Homo sapiens: one gene and its partners. Each later gene encodes a partner of the first gene's protein in a complex. Each region holds a gene or a part of one and is shown on either strand. Other genes may lie near its edges. The genes, in order: RANBP9, GID4 and ARMC8. A codon is read from its position in the direction of its gene.

What was found.
Region 2: the proteins of RANBP9 (region 1) and GID4 are in contact, whole or in part, in a cryo-EM structure (PDB 7NSC), measured with the Homo sapiens proteins. Residues at the interface, in NP_005484.2 of Homo sapiens: Ser223, Lys224, Gly225, Arg226, Asp227, Gly228, Tyr229, Met230, Gly256, Asp257, Thr274, Phe275, Thr276, Thr277; in NP_076957.3 of Homo sapiens: Leu187 (codon at 5,025), Arg189 (codon at 5,031), Asp194 (codon at 5,046), Glu195 (codon at 5,049), Asn216, Asp218.
Region 3: the proteins of RANBP9 (region 1) and ARMC8 are in contact, whole or in part, in a cryo-EM structure (PDB 7NSC), measured with the Homo sapiens proteins. Residues at the interface, in NP_005484.2 of Homo sapiens: Tyr271, Gly298, His299, Ser300, Leu301, Gly302, Ile303, Asp337, Asp340, Tyr341, Arg343, Glu344, Thr347; in NP_001350870.1 of Homo sapiens: Gln245, Arg246, Asp247, Val277, Leu278, Lys279, Ile317, Ile320, Thr321, Asp322, His323.

Annotation. Positions count from the first base shown.
Region 1 is NC_000006.12:13,708,493-13,716,337, forward strand, and holds the start of RANBP9 (ran-binding protein 9), read right to left. Parts: upstream 3,344-7,845; 5' UTR 3,014-3,343; coding exon 2,443-3,013; intron 1-2,442. UniProt on the Homo sapiens protein: May act as scaffolding protein, and as adapter protein to couple membrane receptors to intracellular signaling pathways. Acts as a mediator of cell spreading and actin cytoskeleton rearrangement.
Region 2 is NC_000017.11:18,049,163-18,056,600, forward strand, and holds part of GID4 (glucose-induced degradation protein 4 homolog), read left to right. Parts: intron 1-4,964; coding exon 4,965-5,072; intron 5,073-7,438.
Region 3 is NC_000003.12:138,295,004-138,299,014, reverse strand, and holds the end of ARMC8 (armadillo repeat-containing protein 8), read right to left. Parts: intron 3,157-4,011; coding exon 3,123-3,156; 3' UTR 642-3,122; downstream 1-641. UniProt on the Homo sapiens protein: Component of the CTLH E3 ubiquitin-protein ligase complex that selectively accepts ubiquitin from UBE2H and mediates ubiquitination and subsequent proteasomal degradation of the transcription factor HBP1.

The DNA of each region.
Region 1 (7,845 bases):
AAATACTTCTATTTCAAAGATAAGGAAAATTCTCGTCACTCTGGAAAATAATTAAAATCATTCTTTTGAAATTCTGTAATACGTGAATATATGAATAGTAGTTTTTACTGTTAAAAGTGTCTCATGATACTTAGGTAAAACCAATGCAGCACAATGATAGGTTAAATAAAAATTCACTCTTCTTATTCTGTGATTTTAAAGTATTATCTACTCTCTATGATACTTCTCCTTTGCTACTGCTACTGCTACTGGGACACAGTTGCCCACCACAATCGGCGTGGTCCTCTCACAAAACACGCAGAAAATCAACAGTAACAACGGAAAACTCACACACACACACACACACACACACACAGTCTACAGTAACAAGACAAGAGGAAGAGGCAGTAGAAAGGGAAAAAGACTTTCTGACAAGGGGTAAGAGAGAGACAAAGGAAAGATAGAAGAGAGGAAAAATAAAAGGATAACAACAAAATCTGTTCTTCCAGAAATAATGATTTATGTTTATAAAACAGTTATGTTCCCAGAAAGTGAACCTTAGTATTACACAACAGAAAGTAATAAAGAGGCCAAGAATAAAAACAACTGAGACAGCAGTGTCAGAAATATTCCAAACTCCAACTAATTTCATATAAACGTGTATTTTTCTCTGACCTAATCATCAATTTTATGTAAAAGACTAAAACTAATCAAGACACCTTACAGTACTAAATAAACAGTAATCACGAATCTTAGACATCACGGAAATTCAGAGCTGGAAATTTCCTTACCAATCGTCCAGCTCAACTTACACACCACTCAGAGGAAGAAACTGAGGCTCAGTCTTGTAAAATATCTACAACCACAAACAACTGCAGAACTCAGGAAATCTAGAATTCTTTGTTCATCTACACTGGCTCTGACTTTATGAGCAAATTATTTACTGTCAACCATAAATTTAAAATTATAAAATTCTGTCACATCTAACAATAGCTTTCTGGCAGCCAGATCAGAAGTAAACACCTCATAACATAGCACCGTTCACACAAATTAAAACATAAAAGTAGAAATACTTCACAAGGAAATTAACAAAAGGTCCTAACTTGAGAAAAAACAAAGATTTGATATTGTGAATGAAACGTTCAGACGTTTAGATTAAGGAGGATAACACTTGGAAGTACTTCTTTGGATGTATGGCGAGAATAAAAAGAATGTTCAACAAGGCCTATTTTTGTGCGTGATTCTTTGCAGCCAAATCATTTGGTAGATTTCTATTGCCATTCGCCTTTCTGATTAAATAGTAACTTACTTATCAAGCTTCTTCTCAAATTTCAGTCCCGTATAAGTTAAGAATTTAACCACAAGGTTGTTTATCTCCTCTACATACATGTCACTAGGATCTGAGTAGACCCCTTTACAGCCAATCAAAGTGAGGCTGCCGTGAATGTAAAAGCTTCTGCTTTAGGTTTGGGGCCTAAAACCCTGGATTTGTTTCCAGACAAGACTGATACGTTAGGTTGATTTTTTTTTCTTCCACACAAGTAAACTTGATACATGCTATTAAATTGGGCTACATTTCAATAGTTCCCATAGCAATTCATAATTTTATATACAACTGATTTGCTTCCAGCTTTGTTTTAACCTAGGAGAGGTAGGTGAGGGAGGAAAGGGGCAAGCACAAGCCTAAGGTTGTTGTTTTTAACTGCAAGTGCAAAACATAAGCCAATTTTCTTCAAAATACTAAGCTGCATTTTGTTCCATCTTCGTTTTCAACAAGACTTCATGTGATATCAACACCTAAGGACCTGTATAGGGCACTTCCAATCGGGAGGGGTAGGTTTCTGCTCCCCTAAGAAAAAGGGTGTTCCTGGGGTTCCCTTCTCTTACCCTCCCGGTTGCTTTTACTAAAATATATTGATGGCAAACTTGGGCCCCTTGTCCTTTTGTCCCCCTAGACAATCTCTGGCCTAATTTTGATTACTCCTCCCCCTGTGTATCCCTGCTCTCTCTTAATTAGAAATCATACCTCAGAATCGTGCCTCTCTTCCCCCCTTGTAAGAGGAGAACGCCTGACCCACCACCTGGAGAACAATGTAACCCAACTCCGAGTCCATGGATTCCTCTACCCAAGCCCCAAGATTTATCTCCCAGGGAAATCAGAAAGCCAGTTCTGTCCTGTCATCCCGGATTCCCTCAAGGTGTCCTGCTCCTGGTCTAGGATTACCAGCTCCTTTCTACCCTGGGGCATTCTACTCACCTTCCTTTTCCAAGAATCTCGCCCCTCACCCTCGGACCCTTCACCGCGACCCCCGCGCCCACCCGGAGCAGCACAACAGGCGGCGAGTGGCCTCCGAGGGCAGAGCCCGCGAGGGCGGGGGTCGGGGGCGGGTCGAGAGCGGCGCAGCGGCGGCCGGCCACGTCGGGTCAGTGCCCCACTCCCACCGCAGGACACACGCCCAGTACCTTTGTAGTGCACCCGCAGGTTGTTCTGAGAGAGGCCGATGTAGCTGAACTTGTCCTTCGGGCTCCAGGACCGAGGCAGCGGCGTCTCTTGTTCGTCCACGGCCGGGTAGAGACGCTTCAGCCGCCGCTGCAACTCCTTCTCCTGCTCGTTCAGGGCCGAGTCCCCGTGAGGGAAGGGGGCCGCGGCGCTGCTGCCCGCCACCAGAGCTGGGGTCGGGGCTCCTCCAGCCGGGCCGGGGCCCGCTGCAAGGCCCGGGGGAGCGGGCGGCCCGCTGGCGGGGGCAGCCGCTGAGGCAGGGGGAGGCGGGGGCGGCGGCGGGGGCGGCGGGGCCGCGGTGGCCGGGGGCGGCGGCGGCGGAGGGTGGAGGAGCAGGGCGGCCGCCGCGGCCCCTAAGCCTTCGCCGCCCGCACCGCCGCCGGGCGAGCCGGCCGGAGAAGAGCCGGCGCTGACGGCCGGGGGCGCCGGCAGGACGACTCCGGAGACTGGGGCCAAGGCCGCCGGCGGTGGCGGCGACAGCTGCTGCTGCTGTTGCTGCTGCTGCGGCGGCGGCGGCGGCGGCTGCCCGGACATCCCGGCCGCGACTCAGCCTGCGGCCACCTCCACCTCTTCTCTCCTTCCTCCTCTGCTTCCCGGGGGCGCTGTCGCTGCGGCCGCCGGCACCAGGCGCCCAGTCCGCCCGCCCCGGAAGCAGGCGGCGGGCCGCGCGCCCAGGGAGACCGCGGCGGTTGAGGAGCTCGGAGACGCGGGAGTAGGCGGCGGGCCCGGGAGGCCGGGAGAGAACGTTGGCCGGAGCGCGGGCGCGCGGCCCGGGGACGAGGCGCCGAGGGCGGGGGCGACGCGGGAGCGCGGGAGGGGAAGGCGCGCTGGCGGCCGCCGCGGCCGCTGCTCTCGCGGCTGTTTCCCGGCGGGCGGGCCGGGCCGGCGCGAGACGCTGCGCGCGGGCGGCGCTAGGCGAGGGGGCGGGACGGAGGCGCGAGAGAGGCGCGAGCGGTGCGAGGGGGCGGGCCGCGGGGCTCCCGGCTGTGCGCCGCGAGGCGTCCTCCCGGGCCCGCCAGTCGCTCGTGGGCAGGATCGCTGGGCTCCCGGCGCCGCAGGTCCCTTCGGAGGTGTCCGCCTCCTCTCCCTTGGCGGCCGCCGTCGCCCCCCTCGCCGGCGAATCCCCTCCCACTTGACTTCTTTTTGTTGTCGTCGCCCCACCTCCCCACCGTAGGGCTCCTCGGAGCCGAGGCGCCGCTTCTCGTCCAGGCGAGAGTAATCGAGCCCCGCTGGGGCCGCCGCGAGCCCAGGCCCCGGGGCGCTCTAGGACCCGTCGGCCCGGGGCGTGCGGAGCGGCTCAGGCTCCCCGCGCAGTGCTGCTAGCTCTCGCCTCAGTCCCGTTCCCGTTTGCCGCCTCCCTCCAAAGAGGAACGCATTGCCTTTGGTACTTCAGTGTTTAATTCCGTAGCATTGACCATATGGGCAGTAGAAACCACTTCTGAAGGCAGTCTCCCACTTAGAATAGTGACTGTTTCATTAATTAATTTTACGAGGACTCACAGTGAACTTAACAGTGGTAGAAGATGTCATTAATAAAGACCGGCATATCTTCAAAAAGCAGGAGCAGGCACTGTATGAATACAAGATTATAGTGTGTGTTTAGGAAGGGCTTCTAGAGACGTCAGAACATTTTATAGACTCGTTAATTTTCATAACAGGGTTCTTAGGTAACAGAAAATTATGCCCATTTTTAAAACAAGGAAATATTTACCGAGATCAGCAGAGTCAAAAATAGGACTTCCTACTTTGCAATTCCCAATAGAATGCTTCGTCGACTAATTTGGCACAACTTGCCAAGTGTTGCTCTCTGACCCATCATAACATTACTACTTTGTTTTCACCACTTCCCTTTGTTTAGCTTATCCCTCCCTAGCTGGCAAAATCAGGCTTTGCATATGTAAATTGTGTGATGTAAATTCTGATATTTTGTTTGCTTCCAAAGATATGATGGTAATCATTTGGTCAAATAAGAAATGTTTTGCCGAAGAGAAAATTATTTCGTTTTGAAGAAGGTAGGCCAAAGGTGATTTAATTTAAGGCCAAGATTATCTGGCCAGAACAAATAACAGAGTCATTCGGCCTAATTTCTCCCTCAGTTACCCAGACAACTAGATGTTCTGTTGTACTTTTATTATTATTATTATTATTGTTTTGTCGCCCAGGCTGGAGTGCAGTTGTGTGGTCTCAGCTCACTACAACTTCCGCCTCCCGGGTTCAAGCGATTCTCCTGCCTCAGCCTCCCAAGTAGCTGGGACTACAGGCATGTGCTCACACCCAGCTAATTTTTGTACTTGTAGTGGAGACGGGGTTTCACCATGTTGGCCAGGCTGGTCTCGAACTCCCGACCTCAAGTGATCTACCCGCCTCAGCCTCCCAAAGTGCTGGGATTACAGGCGTGAGCCACCATGCCTGGCCTCTGTTGTAGTTTGATAGAAATATCCATTAATTTTAACCTGTTGTTTGATGACTTTTTTTAAACCACTGCACTTTGAATCACATGATGTCACTGTATTTACAGTGTTCTAACACTTTCATTTATATTACAGTAACAATGAGTTCAATGTAAGCCAAGCTCTATTTAAATGTACGATAGCCATGTTAGAATAAATGGGCTCCAGACGTCATTAAACTTTCTTGAAACACTTTTGAAGATGTACTTTTTTTCTGTCAGCACACTTAGGAACTATCTAGAACTTTCCGTATCTTAGGAACAGCTGAAGGAATAGAATTGTCTAACATTTTGTTGGAAGCATTTTATAAGGGGGACTGGTGGTTCTCCATCAAGAAATTAATGATTTCAGTTGTGGGGGAGGATGCTGTGAAATGAGTACTTTCTCATATAGAAGGAGATAGAGAACATTGATAACGTCCTTTTGGAAAGCTACATACTTGGTTATATTTATAAGGAGACATAAAGGAGTTCATACCTTTTGACTTATCTATCAAAAAGCCAAACAACACAATCTAAATATGAAAATACTTTAGGCTGAAAAATGTTCCACAAGAAGTATTAATGGTAGATTAAATATAGAAGCAAATCAAATGCCCAACCGGAAGAGACTAGAAGAAATTCTAGTCACATGTGAAATTCTAATCACATACCCCACTCAGTGGAGTTATGCTACAGGAGCACATATAGCACATTCGTGCCATTTTTTTTTAAGGTATCCCTTCTGGGCAGTGGAAGTGCCAAAAGAGGTCAACCAATTAGAAAAAGGCACCCCTTCCTCTTGACTTAGTGGATCCTGGGCCCACCTTCAGACCCACTCTCTCCAGGCTTCTTGCACAGGCACAGCCTGAAACAAATATTTTATGGCCTCTTAAAAATATGTTATTGAAGACATAGAAAAATGATTATGATATGCTAAATGAAAAGAGGCAATACGATAATTATAGCACTGCCAAAATCATTACCAAAAAGACATGAAGGAAAAATTGTAAAATGTTTCCATAATGGACAATTATAATGCATTATTAAAAGTAATGTACTTTTATTATGAAAATAATAGAATTGTACATAGATATGTAAATAGTAAAAATCCATTAGCCATGAACATATCCACACCCTTCTTGAACCTATGTTTTCAGTCTTTACCATGTATTGCTCTAATATTACCCAGTATCTGTATCTGCTGGGTTTCTCAGTATCGAACAATAGGAACCAATTCTGGCTCTCTTAAGCAAAAAAGGAACTTACTGGAAAGATATTAGATGGTTCTCAGAATTGACCAGAAGGCTGGACAAGCAGGCCTGAAAACTGACAATGGCCAAAGGAGGAGAGGCTGCATAAATAGACTGGCCTGGACCCCAGCACTGATCACAGAAATCACTGCCAGATGTCACCTTCAACACCTGGACTCTTATCTCTCTGACCTCCAGCCTTTACACCACTCACTCAAGTTTCAAAGTCACCAAGCCTAGATTGTGTGCCCATGCCAGAATACACCAGCAAGCAGAGATTCCCAGGTTATCCAGTGACTGGGTTACAGAGATGCTACGTTATTGATAACTTCAGCTCAGGGTGGGCCTTGAGTGGTTACAGCCACCAGAACTGGTCCCTTCCAACAGTGAGCAGTCTTGTGCATTCAGAGTACCATACACATCTTATTTTCTGTGCATGGCATAACATGAAAATGTTTAGGACACATTGCCCTAGTGGAAAAGGGCCACTGGTGCCCACAGTAGAGGATTTTCCATACTAGGAAAGATACTAGGAAAGAGGTAAGATGCTGACCAGCCTGTTTCAGTCAATGCCCATGACAGTATCCTTCTGAGTACTGGAAAATGTTATGGCAATGTGTGCCAAGATCTATAGTATGGTTTTAGGGTCTGGATTAGTTATCTATGGCTGCAGAATAAATAATCCTCAAATTTAGTGGCTTAAAATAACGTTTATTATCACACATTTTCTGTGGGTCAGGAATCTGGCACAACTTCACTGGATCCTCTGCTTCAGGGTCTCTCATGAGCATTAAAGGTGTCAGTTGGGGTTGCAGTCATCTCAAGACTTGACTGGGGAAGAATCCACTTTCACACTCACTGATGTGGTTATCACACTCATTGATGCAGTTCCTTGAGGGCTGCTGGACTAAGGGATTCAGTTTCTTGTTGGCTATTGGCCAGAAGTGGCCCATGATGCCTTGCCACATGGGCACCTTCAACATGGCAGCTTGCTTCATGAAAGCATGCAAGCCAAGGCAATCGTGGCAAGACAAAAGTTACAGTGTTTTGTAACCCAACCACGGAAGTGACATCCCATCACTTTTGCCATATGTTTGTTAGAAGTGAGTCATCAGTTTCATCCCATATTCAAGGGGAGGGGATTACACAAGGCTATGAACACAAGAAGGTGAGGATCATTGAAGGCCGTCTTTGGAAACTGACTCATACAGGGTCCTTGTAACTTCCAGTGACCCTGGGGAACTGCACTTGCCACATTCACATCAAATATGGATTCTAGACCAGGGATCAGCAAACTTTTTCTGTAACAGGTTAGATAGTGAATATTTTAGGCTCTGCGGAACATAGTTACCTGTCGCAACTACTCAATTTTGCCATTGTAAATGAAAGTAACCATAGATGATACATAAACAAACGGGCATGGCTGTGATCCCGCAAAACTTTATTTACAAACATAGGGAGCAGCCTGGATTTGCCCTACAGGCTTCAGTTTGTGATTCCTGTTCCAGACTATTACATCAACGTTCCTTATAAACCATTCTCAACACTAAAAATGAAAGCCAAGTCACTAGCAATGAAATCCTAGGAGTCAACAAATTCATTTTATTACCCACAATGCGTGCTGCACTCCAGTGTCCGAGGCAGCCTGATGCCACACGAATGGAGTAAGCATATTTCTGCACGTA
Region 2 (7,438 bases), on another chromosome or scaffold:
CCATCTCTACTAAAAATACAAAAATTAGCTGGACATGGTGGCGGGCACCTGTAATCCCAGCTACTCAGGAGGCTGAGGCAAGAGAATCGCTTGAACCCAGGAGGCAGAGTTTGTGGTGAGTTCAGATCATGCCACTGGACTCCAACCTCGGCAACAGAGTGAGACTTCGTGTCAAAAAAAAAAAAAAAAGGAGATAAGTGTCAAAAAAAAAAAAAAGGAGCTAAATGGCCTCTTAGCTACCTCACATTCACAAACAAGCACAGCTTTTTTGTTTGTTTGTTTTAATTTTTATTTTAGGCTTGGGTGTACATGCGCAGGTTTGATCTATAGATAAACTTATGTCACGGTTTACCTATGTAACTGTTGTGGAGATTATTTTGTCACCCAGGTATTAAGCCTAGTACTGAATAGTTATTTCTTCTGCTCCTCTCCCTTCTCCTACCCTCTACCCTCAAGTAGGCCCCATTGTCTGTTCTTCCCTTCTTTTTTTTTTTGAGATGAAGTCTCGCTCTGTTGCCCAGGCTTGAGTGCAGTGGTGCAATATCTGCTCACTGCAACCTCTGCCTCCCAGGTTCAAGCAGTTCTCCTGCTCAGCTTCCCAGGTAGCATGTACCACCACACCAGGCTAAATTTTTTTTTGTACTTTTGGTAGAGATGGGGTTTCACCATGTTGGCTAGGCTGGTCTTGAACTCTTGACCTCAGGTGATTTGCCTGCCTCAGCCTCCCAAAGTGCTGGGATTACAGGCTTGAGCCTATTGTTTCCTTCTTTGAGCCCATGAGTTCTCATCATTTAGCTCCTACTTATAAGGGCAGTATTTGGTTTTCTGTTCCTGCATTAGTTTGCTAAGGATAACGGCCTCTAGCTCTACCCGTGTTCACGCAAAAGACATGATCTCATTTCTTTTTATGGCTTCATAGTATTCCTTGGTGTATATATACCACGTTTTCTTTATCCAATCTGTCATTGATGGGCATTTAGGTTGACCCACTTTTTACTATTGTGAATAGTGCTACAGTGAACATTTGCATGCATGTATCTTTATAGTAGAATGATTTATACTCCTCTGGGTGTATACCCAATAATGGGATTGCTGGGTCGAATGATAGTTCTGTTTTTAACTCTTTGAGGAATTGCCACATTGCAAAACGGAGCTTTAAAGTTTGTTTTCATGCCTTCTGGAAGTGAAATTCTAGAAATGTAAAGAATAAATATGAAATAACATTCTTTTTGCACTTTTGAGCCATCCGTCAGTCAAGAGAGGCGACCTTTCCGGGGAACCCAGCAGCTTTCAGGGGTTACCTGGGAGCCCAGCCTTTGGGGGCCATGGGCAGGCCCCCCACTTACTCATTACTTGGGTTTGGAAGGGTTGGAAGCTCCAGCTGAAGTTGTGCTAGACTTGTGCTTAACTAGGGAGACAGGTCACACCTACCAAAACTCACAAAAACAAAAGTGCCAGTTTTTGTCAGAGAATGAGATTCCTGTATGTTCCAGAAGTTCCTGTTGACTTATTGGCCAATTGAATGTTAATCCTCCAGAAGACAGGTCTACATGGAAAGTCGTGGTACCTATCACCACACAGTTTTGGGTGAGCCTGGAATCAGTGGGAGGATTAGTTGGGGGACTTAAATGTCTGACAACAGCCAGACCCACCAAGGGATGCCCACTCCTGCTTTTGCTGCCTCTGTTATTCATTTCTCGATATCCTTTCTTCTGACATGGTTTTTCGTCCGCTCTATAAATTACCCCTCATTGGGCTGTAATAAAGTGCTTGAATTTCCTGTTCCTGCTCTGAGAATATTTTATCTTTTCAGTGACTTCTGTACACACTGAATCTCATTTATTAGGTATTTATTTTATTTAATTCTCAAAGTTTGAGGGTACCCTGTAGTTACCCTGATATACTGCCTAAAGTATGTTTACAAAGAAGTCAATGCAGAATTATTCATTAAGAAAACTAGTGATTTAAACCATAAGTGTTTTAATCATATTAGGACCTCCTCCCCACCCCTCCCTTTTTTAAAAATAGAGACCGGGTCTTACTATGTTGCCCAAGCTGATCTTGATCTCCTAGGCTCAAGTGATCCTCCTGTCTTGGCCCCCTAGAGTGCTGGCATTACAGGTGTGAGCCACCAGGCTTGGCCTTGTATTAAAACCTCTTTATCATTTCATCCTATCCCTTTCAAGGAAGTTCAGAAAAAAGATTAAAGCTTGAAACTCGGAAAAATAATATAAACAGTTTGTAGTTGGCTGATGCCTGTAATCCCAGCACTTTGGGAGGCCGAGGCAGGTGGATCACGAGGTTAGGAGTTCAAGACCAGCCTGGCCAAGATGGTGAAACCCGTCTCTACTGAAAATACAAAAATTAGCCACACGTGGTGGTGGATACCTGTAATCCCAGCTACTCGGGAGGCTGAGACAGAGAATTGCTTGAACCCGGGAGGCGGAGGTTGCAGTGAGCCAAGGTTGTACCACTGCACACCAGCCTGGGCGACAGAGCGAGACTCCATCTCAAAAAAAAAAAAAATAGCTTCTAGTTTAAAATCTCAAATGCAGGTGCTGATTTATTGAGAACTTTTTTCCTTAGTAGTCTTTCCTAGAACAGATTATAATTAAAAGTTAGTTTATACCGGCTGGGTGCGGTGGCTCACGCCTGTAATCCCAGCACTTTGGGAGGCCGAGGCGGGTGGATCATGAGGTCAGGAGATCAAGACCGTCCTGGCTAACACCATGAAACCCTGTCTCTACTAAAAATACAAAAAATTAGACAGGCGTGGTGGCATGCATCTGTAATCCCAGCTACTTGGGAGGCTGAGGCAGGAGAATCACCTGAACCCGGGAGGCAGAGGTTGCAGTGAGCCGAGATCGTGCCACTGCATTCCGGTCTGGGCGACAGAGCAAGACTCTGTCCCTCCCCCCAAAAAAAAAAAAAAAAGTTAGCTTATACCTTAAAAATTAGGTTTACATTTAGGAAAATTTCTCCTCTCTCATTTTTTCAGTCTATGTATTTAAATATTTATGTGAAGAATCCAGCAACAGTGTTAGGATAGGGGGGTTGTGGGTTTGGGGCAGTATTAGATTTATCATATTTTAAGTTCACTGTTAAGGAAACAGATCCCCTCCATGGTGTCATCCTAAAGCAGGCCTCCTGAGCCACCTGCAGCGGTGGTGACGTTCTGTTTCCTGGGAGCCTCTGCACCAGTGGCTTTTACTGTGGCAGCCTCTCTCAGGAAGGTCCTACACTACATGCAGGCCAGGTTGGTAGATGTGGCAAAGCCATCAGAATGAGGTTTTTGATGCAGAATAAGAGGGGCTTACATCTGATCTGAAGGAAAAACGTGGGCCTTCTGCAGTCCTTGATGTTAGGACTGTAATCTGTGGTTTTCCAGGCCAGTGACTCTCATAACCATGCTCCTGGCAGACACCAGGGGCTTGGCAAGGTAGCCTGAGAGGTGGGTGCTTGGTTGGTTTCTACAAATGCAGAGAAATGTAGACTTTTTACGGTGTTAACTTTTTGTCTTATTAATCTTTTTTAAAATCATTGGTGCCTACTTATTAACACATGAACAAAGAGCAATTAACAAAGCACCCAAGCCAGCACATGGCTTCTTGCTTACGTTTTCCACGGTGTGGTTTTTACATTCAGACATGATTTACATATGTTTTTCCTCATATAAATTGTTTTTAGTTCATATGTTTTTCCTCATATAAGTTGTTCTTAGTTCATGTGACAGAATTAAACGTATCCCTATGTATCAAGGTATTCTAAGACTACCTTCAGGGACCATTTGTATAGTTCATTACTAGAAGTTTCTCTGAACATGTAGAACACTGAAAAAAGTATTTACTTTTTTTTTTTTTTTTTTTTTTTGAGACAGAGTTTCACTCTTATTGCCCAGGCTGGAGTGCAATGGCGTGATCTCGGCTTACTGCAAACTCCGCCTCCAGGTTCAAGCAATCTCCTGCCTCAGCCTCCCGAGTAGGTGGGATTACAGGCATGCGCCACCACGCCCGGCTAATTTTGTATTTTTAGTAGAGATGAGGTTTCTCCATGTTGGTCAGGTTGGTCTTGAACTCCTGACCTCAGGTGATCCTCCCACCTCGGCCTCCCAAAGTGCTGGGATTACAGGCGTGAGCCACCATGCCTGGCCAAAATAAAAGGTATTTTAGGCTGGGTGCGGTGGCTCACACCTGTAATCCTCGCACTTTGGGAGGCCAAGGCGGGTGGATCACCTGAGGTCAGGAGTTCGAGACCAGCCTGGCCAACATGGCGAAACCCCGTCTCTACTAAAAATACAAACATTAGGTGGGCGTGGTGGCAGCCAACTGTAATCCCAACTACTCGGGAGGCTGAGGTAGGAGAATCACATAAACCCAGGGTGTGGGAGGAGGTTGCAGTGAACCGAAATTGTGCCATTGCACTCCAGCCTGGGCGACAGAGCAAGACTCTGTCTCAGGAAAAATAAAAAAGTATTCTACCCCAGAATCCACCCTGGAACCTTGGAGAATTGGTGTAAAAGGGACAAATGACTGAGCCAGTTGGAGAACCAGTGGCTTGAGGGAGCCTTAGTGGTAGACACAGTGATTTTGGAGCCTCTTTGGGTCTAACCTTGGAAAGTAAAATCTACCAAGTTATGATCTGCTTTGTATGCTAGAATATTAAAAATTTATTTGTGGAAACATCCAAATTATTTTCTAAGAGACTAGCATGTAACAATTGAAGTCAAAGAAGGGCTGTCTGCTGCTGGCAAAATCCAGGAAACCCTTCATTCTCTGGGTGATTTAGATTCAGGTCCATTGCCACAGCCTGTTGGCAAACTGGCTGCGATCTAACTCTGGTTTGGATTGTCAGGTAGCAGTGTCTAGGTACTGGAAAGAAGTTAAAGCAAAGTTTATTTTTCCTTTGTACAAAGGTTAAAAACTCTCACTCAACATCTTATTTTGATATTTGGGTTTTTACCATAGGAGTATCCAACCCTTACAACCTTCTTCGAAGGAGAAATAATCAGCAAAAAACACCCTTTCTTAACTCGCAAGTGGGATGCAGATGAAGATGTTGATCGGAAACACTGGGTGAGTAAATCTGATCTGTGCTGGGTCATCTAGGGGCTGCTAGAGAATTGAAGAAATGCTGGGAGCCAGAGACCTTGTCCCTTATTGAGGATTACTGGGGCTTTGCAACCAAGTAAAAGGTTGCACTGCACACAGACCTCAGTTGTTCCATCTTCCTTATGAGGACAGTTTAAATACGATCTGACCTGCTGCTTAAATAGCAAATGGTTGTCTGATGATAGCAACCCCAGAGTTCCAGCCAGAACTCTGCTCAGCTATCAGAATCTTAACAGTGTCCCCCCATCCTTCCCACCTGTTTGTCCATCTTCTGTCCACTGTTCCTTTCAAATCACCTCTGCTTGGGGAAAACCCTGTGAAACATGCAATGATGACCTCCGGCTTCGGGGCTGGCATGAGATGGAGATGATGTTGTGGGAATCTGCCTGCCCACTGGCTTATCAGGGCAGAGCCACATCATTTCTTTTTATCCTGGCTGCTGACAGACAAGTATAGTCTTGTCTTAAGTACACCACTATAAATCCTGCTGCCCCCCTTTTTAACTGTCAAGTGTAGAGCATTCTCACTCAGCAGTAGTGAATGCTTCAAGACAGTTAGTGTCCTGGGATCTTTTCATTTGTTGTCATATAAGTACCATGTCTTCAAAAATCAGTGTCTCGGCTGGGCGCGTTGGCTTGCGCCTGTAATCCCAGCACTTTGGGAGGCCGAGGCGGGCGGATCACCAGGTCAGGAGATTGAGACCATCCTGGCTAACACGGTGAAACCTCGTCTCTACCAAAAATACAAAAAATTAGCTGGGCGTGGTGGTGGGCACCCGTAGTCCCAGCTACTCTGGAGGCTGAGGCAGGAGAATGGCGTGAACCCAGGAGGCGGAGCTTGCAGTGAGCCGAGATTGTGCCACTGCGCTCCAGCCTGAGCAACAGAGTGAGACTCCGTCTCAAAAAAAAAAAAAAAAAAATCATTTTCTCAACCTAATAGCCTTTTGCTTTAGTTGACCATGGTGATGGTGAATTTTTGTTTAACATTGAAGAAGTTCAATGGGTTTACCCTCCATAAACCAACCAGAAATGGCTGTGTCAGTAGCAAAGATTCTAGAACTCGTTCTTCCCATTGCCTCTCACACCTGGCTATCTAAACTCTCCCCTGGTTCTGGCACAGCAGTCTGTGGAGAGAACTCCCGCAGACCCTTGTCTTGAGTTCACCTCACTAGAGATCAGTTGCTTTGCTTACTAATGTTTTTTATTTGTTTATTTTATTTAAAAAAAATTTTTTTTAGAGTTGGGGTCTTGCTCTGTCGTCTATGCTGGAGTGCAGTGGCATGATTATAGCTCACTATAGCCTCAACCTCCTGGGCTCAAGTAATCCTCCCACCTCCGCGCCCCAAGTAGCTAGAACTACAGGCACGTGCCACCACACTGAGCTCATTTTCTTTTATTTTTGTAGAGACAGAGTCTCCCTATGTTACCCAGGCTGGTCTTGAACTCATGATCTTAAGTGATCCTCTTGCCTTGTCCTCCCAAAGTGCTGGGATTATAGGTGTGAGCCACTGACCCAACCTGTTTTTTTGGTTTTTCTTTTATGGGGGTTTTTGTTTTGTTTTGTTCTGTTTTGTTTGGTTTGGTTTTGAGACAGAGTCTCAGTCTGTCACCCAGGCTGGAGTGCAGTGGCGTAATCTCGGCTCACTGCAACCTCTGCTCACTGCAACCTCCGCCTCCCAGATTCAAGTGATTCTCATCTCTCAGCCTCTCAAGTAGCTGGGATTACAGACGTGCACCACCGTGCCTGGCTAATTTTTGTATTTTTAGTAGAGACAAGGTTTCGCCATGTTGGCCAGGCTGGTCTTGAACTCCAGGCCTCAAGTAATCCTCCTGCCTTGGCCTCCCAAAGTGCTGGGATTACAGGCGTGAGCCACCATGCCCAGCCCCAAGCTGTTTTTTACTTGAGTAAAAAAAGGAGATCTATCAAATACTGAGGTTCAGTTAAATTTAAATTTAAACTTGAGCTTTTTAAAGCGTTTTTTGAATTCTATACATTTTGATTGTTGTAGCAAATGGACACTAAAAACTAGACAGTCATTTGTGTCTCTCTGTGATACAAGAGAATGCACAAGACCTGAGTATCCAGAAGGTTGGGGGAGCCCAAGTGGTGTATGAAGGTGCTGGCCACCAGCAGGTGGAGTTGGAAGGGCTCCCTAGTACCATCTGCGCCCACCCCTGCCCAGGGCTAGGCTCTTCCTGCATGGCTTGCTGCCTCACGAGATGGCTCCTTCCTCTCCTGTACAGTCCCAGAGTAGAAGGTTCTTCCTTGTAGTAAACCACAGCCTCTCTCCCATTCAACTCTATTTTCCATTTCATATTGGTCCTGCAAAA
Region 3 (4,011 bases), on another chromosome or scaffold:
TTTCCTGTGGTAGTTATGGGAAACAGGGGCCTGCTTGGCCCTGCTCCTACTCTCTTCGCCTTACCTTGGGTCCTCTCAGAGGTTCCCACCATGATTATTCCCTCTCTTGCTAGCCACCTCATCATCCTCCCGCCACTCTGGCGCAGGTGTCCTTGGCTTTGTTTCCAGTGAGGCCTTGAGATAGGAGATGTGCCTACAATTCAGAGATGGGAAAAGGTGGCAGTGCGTAGTAGACGAAGAGCACCTGTGTGTCCTTGCAGAGGGATAGCAAGCTCTTGCATACTGTGGTAGTGGAGATGCAAGCTGGTGGTAGTGGAGATGGGGCATACCTAAGGAGAAGAGGATGGAGGGGGTGGACATGATATTGGGGATGGGATATCTTGTGGCTGGGAGTGGCCACCTGTGAAGGGTCTGCTGGCCTTCAGAAGGAGGCCAAAAAGAGAGGGGTCCCCAGACTGCTGCAGATGCCTCTGGGAACCACACTTACCTTAAGGCACTGGGTCCCACTCTGAAATGCAAAGCCACTTCCCAGCCCTTCATTTACCAAGAATCACAGGTTCCAAAAGCGTGTACACATTATCTTCTGATGTTTCCTAATGTTCTAGACATTTGGAAAACAGACTCCTTTTTAGAAGTTGCCATGATTTTTCTTGGCTTTTATTAGCATGTGTTAAAATCATATTATCCAAACACTACCAGAAGAACATGTATTGTTCTGAATAAAGTGCTTAAAGAAAAAAAAATGCAACTTATTAAATTGGACATTCTTTTCTAGTTCATAAATTTTGGATTACAATCAGGGCACAAAAGGAGAAACAGAATGCAGTATTAGAGCGAGAAGCTTAGTTAAGAACTTGGGTGTAGACACAATACCATGTCCACTCTTCCCACTTCCTTGCTGACTGAACACTGCACCTGCATAAAGCAGCAAACAGCTTTGTTTCAATAAATACATTTCCCTTCATTCAAATCAGAAAAGTTAATTATAGTAAAGCATTTTTAATTTGACCATCTGTTTATACCCACAGGCAAAATTTATCCACAGAGTTTAAGTGTGAAAGTGTTATTTCATTGGGCCTTCAGCTTTCTAATGCTATTTGGGTTCAAGATTGTCTCAGCAATTCATTATTGGTTTCTTTATATTTACCTAGTACTATTTAATACCAACACTATAGTGTTTTGTGTTAAAAATGCCAACCAAGGATATTTTCACAGTTCTAGAAACGAGTGGGCCTGAGGCTTTCTTCCCAATAAACTAAGTTTTCTTTTAACTGGGTTTCTCACATTAGCACTCTGATATCTGCACAAAACCAAGTCCTGTTGTGACAGATTTTAAAATCGGTGATGTTCTGAAAAAATAGTAACTTGGAAGTCTCTGTGTTTGAATCTTGGGTGGTCATGTTGAGAGCAGGAAAAATTGCATTAAATACATTTTTAAAACATTCATTTGCAACCAAACATTTAAATCTTCCAAGGAACGTGCAGGGTGGTGATAGGGCAGCTGCAGTGTGAGCAACCCCATCAGGAGTGGCTGGTGGGTGGGCTTGGAGCTCCATCAGTGGCACACACTCACCGCAAGCTTCTGGACCGCAGACCTTGCATCCTGGTTGCGAAGCCTTTGACCTTCTTTTAGCAAAGAGAAAAGGTAGGCTGCTTCTACCTTCAAACAGTCAAGAGCAACTTCTGTTGAGTTCACCTTGCTGCTGACCCAGAAGTTGGAGCAGGGGCCAAGCTAAGGGGTGCAGAAAGGCTAACAGTACTTGCTGTAAAAAGAAGTCATCTTCAGTCATCCTGGGGAGATTCCCTTGCCCCTCTCTCAACTTGAGTGCTTTTAGCTTCATGCAGGAAAGATTTTAGTTGCATCTTTTATTAAATTTCAATCTCGTTTTACAAAAGCATACCAACTAGCAGTCCTGAGCAACTAGTATGAAATTTGCTGAATACAGCTAACAGAAAGCTTTCTAAACTATCCTGTTCTTTGTTTCTTTCTACAGGGGTGTCTGTAGAATATTCTTTAGTTTCACAGTGATATATGCTGTTTCAGGAAGCACAAGGTATTCTGTTTCTGGGAAGTGATGACCTACTTTTAGTTTGAGCACAAGTTTCCATGACTGGTTCTAAATCTGGCCAGATATTGCTAATACCAATGACAGGAGTTAGGGCAATTGGGAGGCTCTTGGTCCCCAGTTCCTGTCAAGGGTAAGCCCATCTGGGTCATGGCTGGGCTTTCACTATCAGTAGTTATATTTCCCTTTGATGCTTCAAAAAGCCTATGGTGAATCTGTTGCCTCACTTTACTTCTCCATTTGACTTGGAAGCCTGAGAACTTACTGAATTAGGATGAAAAAAGGCTCTGTACCTGCTAATATTGACGGCAGTAAGATGCTAGCTTACTATTTTGCACAGCACCATGTATAGTGCCTGTTAATCAGGCCAACTATAGCCAACTTTTTCTTTTTTTTTCTTTTTTTTTATATAAAGAAAATCTATGTAAGTTGAGGTTCAGAAATGCATATATTTTTTACTTACAAATATTCATCTGACCAAAATTCAACATAACCTTTATGGAACACTTAACAATTGTTTTGTTTTTAAAATAACATTTCATTCAAACTGTATATAATTCAGTAAAGTTTTTTATACAGCAAGCAATGCTTAAACCCTGGAAAATCTGTAGAAAAGAGATTTTCACACAAAATAAGAAAAGAAAAATCTGAGGTATCCCTCACACACACACATCCATTCATTCTGGCCCATGTACGTGCACATACACACGCATGCCTGTGTGTTCACACAGACATATTCATTCTCACTCACAAAGTGGCTGCAGCATAGGCAAAAATTGTAGGTCCAAAGGAAAATGATTGATTGTTCTAATAAAGAGTCCGAGTAGCTCAGAAAAAAAAACCAAAACAAAACACAAGAGTCTTCTGAGGAAATTACTACCTCAAAAAAATGTTCTCAAGATGAATTTGAGATCTAAGCCTACTAAACTGCTTTTGCAAAACAGCTCCCTGCAGTCCAAGGTGACTTGTGCAAATAGAAGGAATCAAATGAGGCTGGTTCCTGTACTTCCTTAAACAAGGAGGTGGGATGCTCGCAGGTGCCCAGGGGCACTCCCATCATGCCAGGTACTGCTGCAGTGCCATCTTTGCCCTGAAATCACAAAATTCCTGTTAGCCATCATCTCAGAATTGTAATTGGGGTAAAAAACCCTATGGTTCAATGATGATAGCTGGGGAAGTCTAAAAAAGTAAATCTCCAGAGGGAATTGGGGTGAGCCCAGGTGGGCACCTACCTTAAGGGGAAGAGATCTGCAGTGGGTAGACACCTGAAATCTACTCTGGCTATATTCTTCTTCCTGTGGATCTCTCAGAGGGCTGTTCCTGCACTTAAACCTGCTGCAGCTCAGTGACATTCCACAGTCCCTGGTATGTGCTGACATTCTATGTTTTCTTTTGTCACTGGCATATAGTTGTGATAGGTCTTACATTCTTTACTTTTTCTTACTGCCATGTAGGTTTTATGCAGTGAGGCACAACACTAGGGAGAACACTTAGGGTTCTGGGAAGCAAATAAGAAAACTGACCGAGGAAATGGTGTTGAGGTGATTAGAAGGTGCATGGAAGGGGCCAAGAGCCCATGGGATGAGGCTGTCTTATGCTTCACATGCCTCAGAACCGTGGAAGAAGGCTACAATTTCATCTTGTTCTTCTCATCACACCTGATGACACCATAACTGATCAATGTGAGATGTGTGTTGTTACGGTGATGGGGGAAGAAGGTGGCCAGGTGGAAAGGAAAAGATAGAATGTAGGCCGGGTGCTGTGGCTCACACCTGTAATTCCAGCACTTTGGGAGGCTGAGGAGGGCAGATCACCTGAGGTCAGGAATTCAAGACCAGCCTGGCCAACACGGTGAAACCCTGTTTCTACCAAAAATACAAAAATTAGCCGAGTGTGGCAGCGGGCACCTGTAATCCCAACCACTTCGGAGGCTGAGCCAGGAGAA